Homo sapiens: one gene and its partner. The protein of the gene in region 2 purifies or fractionates together with the protein of the main gene of each other region. This does not show direct contact. Each region holds a gene or a part of one and is shown on either strand. Other genes may lie near its edges.

The links.
Region 1: the proteins of CCT8L2 (region 2) and ACSL4 purify together in Homo sapiens (co-immunoprecipitation; 2 studies listed by BioGRID and IntAct, with this or other methods). This does not show direct contact.

The regions. Positions count from the first base shown.
Region 1 is NC_000023.11:109,642,621-109,646,369, forward strand, and holds part of ACSL4 (long-chain-fatty-acid--CoA ligase 4), read right to left. Parts: intron 1,567-3,749; coding exon 1,409-1,566; 3' UTR 1-1,408. UniProt on the Homo sapiens protein: Catalyzes the conversion of long-chain fatty acids to their active form acyl-CoA for both synthesis of cellular lipids, and degradation via beta-oxidation. Preferentially activates arachidonate and eicosapentaenoate as substrates.
Region 2 is NC_000022.11:16,591,025-16,594,773, forward strand, and holds the start of CCT8L2 (T-complex protein 1 subunit theta-like 2), read right to left. Parts: upstream 1,787-3,749; 5' UTR 1,527-1,786; coding exon 1-1,526. UniProt on the Homo sapiens protein: Possible molecular chaperone; assists the folding of proteins upon ATP hydrolysis.

The DNA.
Region 1 (3,749 bases), on a different chromosome or scaffold from region 2:
ATTAAGAAAAAGTGCAAAGAATAACAGTATTAAGATTTTTTGCATTTTACAGTAACTATGGTTCAAGTGTGAATATTTATCAGGGATATATAATCCCAGGTTTTAATTAAAGATTCAAAAAGAAACCACACTCCCAAGTTACTGCACAAACATCAGTCCCTTATCAAGTAACTCTGCCCTTCTCCCAAATCTAGTATTTCCAGTTTCTAAGCTCTTCCCAAACAGGAAAAAATGATAACAGTGTTTTCTTCCCTTTAACTTCCCAAAACTCATCCAAGTTAATCACCTGTAAGTTCAAGCAAGATATTGGGGAAGTCATTCATTATAACCCGCTTTGCTAAAATTAAAGCAAAATGAAAGGCTTTCTGAAATGCAAACTACTGATCAAGAATAAAATCAGCAACAGCAAACAGACCTTAAATTACAAATGTAATTTAATACATGTACATTTTAAAATCAATCCCTGTTATCAAAGATAAATTCAGAGTTTAAATCTCTTTCCCAGGTTCAGTGCTGTGCAAGGGTTCTAATTCCAAATACTTATGATTTTATCACCTTTTCTAAGAGAAAATGTTTGCCTGTTAACTTTTTACCTTCCTTGCTCTTGGTCTCAGCTTTTCAGTTTGAATAAACACAGAAAGGCAATTTTCAGCATTTCAAAAAATGTACTTTCCTCTTAGTCATTCAAATAATTACAGTTATTTTTAGATCTCAAAGTTTCAAAAAAAGCAGCTCAATTTCCCTTTAAATATATTACTAGATATTTTTTGGTGTTGTATATGTTGTTCTATTCTTATTTTAGGCACTGTAATTATTCACAACATTACAATGACTCTATATCTAACCTATGCAACAATTATAATCTTAATACCTTCTAAGGTATTATTTGATTTTGTGTATTATATTACTATTGAATTTTTCCTTCAAGATAAATGGTTGGAAGAGAATTTTAAAGCCCTGCAGCACTTTTGCTTTGAGTAGTGTTAATACATATTTTCTGTCATGCTTAATATTTAAACTTCTGAAATAGGAAGACAAGAGGCATTGGAAGCTGCAAATTTCCTCAAACTACATTCTACTCCAACTCCAATTTATTTTGTTCAACATTAAATATTTTTCTTTACAAAAACAAGTATATCTTAGGCTAATTTTTAAAAACAGAATTTCTGCTCTATAATAACACAGCTAAAGGGAAATAACTTTTCAATTTCAGCTGCACTAGAACTATGCAAAACTAAGTTAAAGTAAACCGGACAACAATTTTAATAACTTTTGGTTTTGTTTTCTTTTTACTCTATCTTTAGAATGATATACCTTACATTCTAACAGTTCAACAAAGGCTTAAAATTCTAGAGGTTGAAAACCACCAGGCTACCTCCTGCACAACTGTCAATAAGACAACAACATTTTATTTGCCCCCATACATTCGTTCAATGTCTTTGAGGTAATGGTTCCTCAGCTCCTTCCTTTTCAGTTTGAAAGCATCAGTTACCAAACCAGTTTCAGGGGTCCATGGCTCTGGGCTTAATCGAACCTTGATTGGAATTTCAAATCGCTCCAATTTCACTGAAATTAGAAGTGAAAGATGGGAGAAAAGGAGAGGGGGGGAAAGAGACGAGAAAGGAGTGGGGACGGGGAAAGAAGGGGAAGGAGAAGCAATTAATAAAATATGAGTTTTTCAGGATTTACCTAGATGATTCGGGTGTTGAATCACCAATCACCACAAACTTATTTAATGGTATACTAGATAGTTTATTAATGCTACCTCTACCTTACAATTTCATTTTATATTTCTCAAAGTATACCTAAGTTGTTTCAGTTGGATAGTTTTAGTCTATGTGGTTATTAAAATATACATACATATACACATTATTTATACTCACACACACACACATACACACACATCTTCCTCTTCAGAGACTTTATATTTGCCTGAGATGGTCTTTCTCAATAAAGTTGTGTGTCACTTCCATACTTTATCCATATGTCTGCTCAAATACCACCACCCCGGAGAGGACATCCCTGACCACTCATAACAAAAGAGAAGGGGGAGGAGCCAAGATGGCCAAATACGAACAGCTCTGGTCTACAGCTCCCAGCCTGAGCGACACAGAAGACGGGTGATTTCTGCATTTCCATCTGAGGTACCAGGTTCATCTCACTAGGGAGTGCCAGACAGTGGGCGCAGGTCAGTGGGTGTGCGCACCATGCGCGAGCCGAAGCAGGGCGAGGCATTGCCTCACTCGGGAAGCACAAGGGGTCAGGGAGTTCCCTTTCCTAGTCAAAGAAACGGGTCACCTGGAAAATCGGGTCACTCCCACCCAAATACTGTGCTTTTCCGACAGGCTTAAAAAACGGTGCACCAGGAGATTATAGCCCGCACCTGGCTCGGAGGGTCCTACGCCCACGGAGTCTCGCTGATTGCTAGCACAGCAGTCTGAGATCAAACTGCAAGGTGGCAGGGAGGCTGGGGGAGGGGCGCCCGCCATTGCCCAGGCTTGCTTAGGTAAACAAAGCAGCTGGGAAGCTCCAACTGGGTGGAGCCCACCACAGCTCAAGGAGGCCTGCCTGCCTCTGTAGGCTCCACCTCTGGGGGCAGGGCACAGACAAACAAAAAGACAGCAGTAACCTCTGCAGACTTAAATGTCCCTGTCTGACAGCTTTGAAGAGATCAGTGGTTCTCCCAGCACGCAGCTGGAGATCTGAGAATGGGCAGACTGCCTCCTCAAGTGGGTCCCTGACCCCTGACCCCCGAGCAGCCTAAATGGGAGGCACCCCCCAGCAGGGGCAGACTGACACCTCACACGGCCGGGTACTCCAACAGACCTGCAGCTGAGGGTCCTGTCTGTTAGAAGGAAAACTAACAAACAGAAAGGACATCCACACCAAAAACCGATCTGTACATCACCATCATCAAAGACCAAAAGTAGATAAAACCACAAAGATGGGGAAAAAACAGAGCAGAGAAACTGGAAACTCTAAAAAGCAGAGCGCCTCTCCTCCTCCAAAGGAATGCAGTTCCTCACCAGCAACGGAACAAAGCTGGACGGAGAATGACTCTGGCGAGCTGAGAGAAGAAGGCTTCAGACAATCAAATTACTCCGAGCTACGGGAGGACATTCAAACCAAAGGCAAAGAAGTTGAAAACTTTGAAAAAAATTTAGAAGAATGTATAACTAGAATAACCAATACAGAGAAGTGCTTAAAGAAGCTGACGGAGCTGAAAGCCAAGGCTCGAGAACTACGTGAAGAATGCAGAAGCCTCAGGAGCCGATGCGATCAACTGGATGAAAGGCTATCAATGATGGAAGATGAAATGAATGAAATGGAGTGAGAAGGAAGTTTAGAGAAAAAAGAATAAAAAGAAACGAGCAAAGCCTCCAAGAAATATGGGACTATGTGAAAAGACCAAATCTACATCTGATTGGTGTACCTGAAAGTGATGGGGAGAATGGAACCAAGTTGGAAAACACTCTGTAGAATATTATCCAGGAGAACTTCCCCAATCTAGCAAGGCAGGCCAACATTCAGATTCAGGAAATACAGAGAATGCCACAAAGATACTCCTCGAGAAGAGCAACTCCAAGACACATAATTGTCAGATTCACCAAAGTTGAAATGAAGGAAAAAATGTTAAGGGCAGCCAGAGAGAAAGGTTGGGGTACCCTCAAAGGGAAGCCCATCAGACTAACAGCGGATCTCTCGGCAGAAACTCTACAAGCCAGAAGAGAGTGGGGGCCAATATACAA
Region 2 (3,749 bases):
TCAGCCACTGCTCGAAATCCTTGGGCTTTGACTATTAGGGTGTCCCACACCCCTTCCTGGGCCACATTTATTATCCCTTCAGTTCCCACACCCATTAGGAGGTTCCCACCTTGGTGCACTCCACTCATTTCTGCCATCACGTCTGAGACAGCTAAGCCTGCATTCTCTGCCAAAGTTTTAGGAAGATACTTCAGGGCCCAGGCAAATGCTAGGAATGCAGGCCCACTGGGCCCTTCCAATCTGCTTCCTTTATCAGAAAGCATTTTTGCCAAAGCCATTTCTGTGGCCCCAGCTCCTGGAATCAGTCTGGGATCTTGACATAGCTGGAAATAGGCATCAATGCCGTGGTAGACGGCCTGCTCTGCACTCCGCAGCCCCTGGGTGGTGGCTCCCCTGAGAACCACAGTGAGGGCAGGTGTGCCTGTACATTCCCATTCAAATACCACAGCCAAACCATCTCCCAGCTCCTGCCTGTAAACCCTCTGGCACTTGCCTGGCCTCTGGGGAGGGAGCAGACGAGGCAGCAGAGGTGTGTCCAACACCTCACTCAGGTAAATGATCTCCATCCAAGACCTAGCTTGAATCACCACGATGCCATACTTGTCCGCCAGTGTGAGGGTCTCCTCGTCGACCTCCCCCAACACCACTGCCACATTAATTCCTGCAGCTGCTAGCTGGCCTACTTGCTTTTCTAGTAATTGATCGCTTCCTTTACTAAATTGAGCTAGATCAGCAGGACTAGAAAGACGGGCCGTTGCTGGTGCATTTGGATGGGCAGGACCAAAGGGGCAAGCAAAGAGAGCCACCCTGGCACCACTTAACACTGTGGCCATTTGCCCACAGAGCTTCCCAGATATTGCTAACCCCGGGAGGAGGCAGGAATCCTCCAGTGTCCCCCCGGGCAGCGCGCACACCCCAACACGCTCAGGCTTGAAGCTGCCGTCTAGTTCCTTGATAGCCCAGCAGGCGTGGGCCACCAGCTTGGTCAAGTGGTCCATGGGGGACAGGGTGTGGGTATTCATCACAGAATGGAGGGCCCAGGATGGATCTTCCAAAGGCCCCAGAGATTGGATGGCCAGGGAGGGCAGTGTGGCCAGGACCTCTGCAGTGGCCGTGGCGTAGGCCTCCCGGAGCTGCGGGCGAGGCAGGCCAGCCTTCAGCAGCTGCTCTGCCTGTTCCAGCAAGGCTTCCGTCAGCAGAACCACGAAGGCTGTGCCGTCCCCACTATTCTCTGCCTGGGTTTGTCCTGCTTCCCGGAGGAGCCATGCTGCTGGGTGCTCCAGCTCCAGGGCCCTGAGGATGGCAGTGGCACACCCCGTGCACACTGTTTCTCCTTTCATGGTCACCAGGAACTTCTGCCGGCCGTGGGGGCCATAGCAAGGCCGGATGACACTGGCCAGGGTCTGGACTGCAGCCAAGCTGCTCAGCAGGTGGGGCTCCTCCTCTTCTGGACTCCTCGGGCTCTCCCTTGGGTTCAGTGCCAGCCGCTGGGGCAGCTCCAGGGCTGAAGGGACTGTGCTGTCCATGGCCCGCAGAGAGAGGAGAGGCCACCGTGGGTTGCAGAGATGCTCTAGAAACAGCAGCTGGGGCACTCCTGACACCGATCGTTGAAAGTACTCAAGAGGTCAGTGGAAGCAAGGAGCCAAATGCCCATTGATTGGTATCTGAAGACATCAGCACGGACCAGCACTCCACTGTGGGTCCAAGGATGAGCTCCAAAGAGCCCAGTCCTAAAGCCACCCCAGGGTTGATTCTGTAAAGGAACTGGGTCTTGGGGCCTCTCAACCTTGGTGGCTGAAATGGGATCTTTAACTGATGAAGTCACAAAGTGGAAAATGGAACCAGGATAGAGAATGAGGTCACAGAAGGCTGGTTAGAACTGAGGAGGCCCTACCAGCAGGCAAAAGTCAGGCCTTGTCCAGCAATGGAGGTACATGCACCTCTGCACCAGGTTTGAGACTTGTTTAAACGTAAGAGACAATGAGGAGGAGATCAAGTGAAAAACTACCCATTTCACCCTATCTGGAGTGCAGGGGCATAACCATGGTTCACTGCAGGCCCAGCTCCCTGGTCTCAAGCAGTCCTCCTGCTCAGGTTCCCAAGTACCTGGGACTACAGGCACACACCACCACACCTAGCTAGTTTTTTTATTTTTTGTAGAGACAGTGTTTCTGTCTGTTGTCCAGGCAGGTCTCGAATTCCTAGCCTCAAGAGAGCCTTCCACCTTGGCCTCCCAAAGTGCTAGGACTACAGGTGTGAGCCACCACCTCACCCACCCTTTTTTTTTTTTTTTTTTTGAGACAGAGTCACACTCTGTTGCCCAGGCTGGAGTGCAGTGGTACAATCTTAGCTCACTGCAACCTCCACCTCCCAGGTTCAAGCAGTTCTCCTGCCTCAGCCTCTCAGTAGCTGGGATTACAGGTGCCAGCCACCACGCCCGGCTAATTTTTTATATTTTTAGTAGAGATAGGGGGATTTCACCATGTTGGCCATGGTTGGCCAGGTTAGTCTCAAACTCCTGGCCTCAAGTGATCCGCCCACCTCGGCCTCCAAAAGTGCTGGGATTACAGGTGTGAGCCACTGCACCTGGCCTTTTTTTTTTATTTGAGAAGGAACTGAGAGATGATGTCTGTGTTTTGTTTTGTTTTGGTGTTACTTTCTCTTGCAGTACTGTGTAATATTAGCCATGTTTTGCTGTCTGCCTTTGACTTTTTGGGTATCTTATCAGTTTGTGCTTGTGTATCAGGTTTCTTAGGGTGTCTGTTGGTCTTTCAGGGTGCAGGTGTGGGAGGCTGCACAGCGTGCATGCCTGTGCCACGACTCCCAACTCTGCCTCCCTGGCAGAGGCAGGGCAAGACAAGTGGGGAAGGATGCTGACAGCTCACAGACAAATAGAAGTGAACCCAGAGGGGTGAAAAGCAACCAGCCTCCCAGCGGTCAGGGAGGTAGAAGCCTAAATGGGGTCCTGAGATTTAAATGCGAATCGCCTTCCCATCCTAACCTTCAATGCTTACAATTTAAGTCTCTTTTTTTCATTCTCTCTCCTTTCCTCACTTGTCTCCTCTTTCCTCCTATAGAGCCTACTCGGGTAATGATGCTTCTGCTTTAGTTTAACACATATTTAGTCTGGGCGTGGTGGCTCATGCATGTAATCCCTGCACGTTGGGAGGCTGAGGCGGGAGGATTGCTTAAGCTCAGGAGGTTGAGGCTTCAGTGAGCCATGATTGCACCACTGCATTCCAGCTAGGGCAACAGAGTGAGACTTGTCTCAAAAAAAATAGGGGAAAGGTCATTTGGAATCCTAGTCCAGAGATAACCATTGTTTACAACTTGATGAACATTACTACTTTGCACATATTATATGCATACATAATTATAGATTTACACCATTTTACATAAGATTATGATACATATATGCTATTCTGTGATCATTTCCCCCTCAACATTATCTTGGCTCAGAGAAATGTTTCTTTTTTTGTTTGGACATGGAGTTTCGGAGTTTCGCTCTTGTCGCCCAGGCTGGAGTACAATGGCGCAATCTCGGCTCACCCTCGGCTCACCACAGCCTCTGCCTCCCGGGTTCAAGCAATTCTCTTGCCTCAGCCTCCTGAGTAGCTGGGACTGAGTAGCCATGTGCCACCATGCCCGGCTAATTTTGTGTTTTTAGTAGAGACAGGGTTTCTCCATGTTAGTCAGGCTGGTCTCAAACTCCTGACCTCAGGGGATCCACCCGCCTCGGCCTCCCAAAA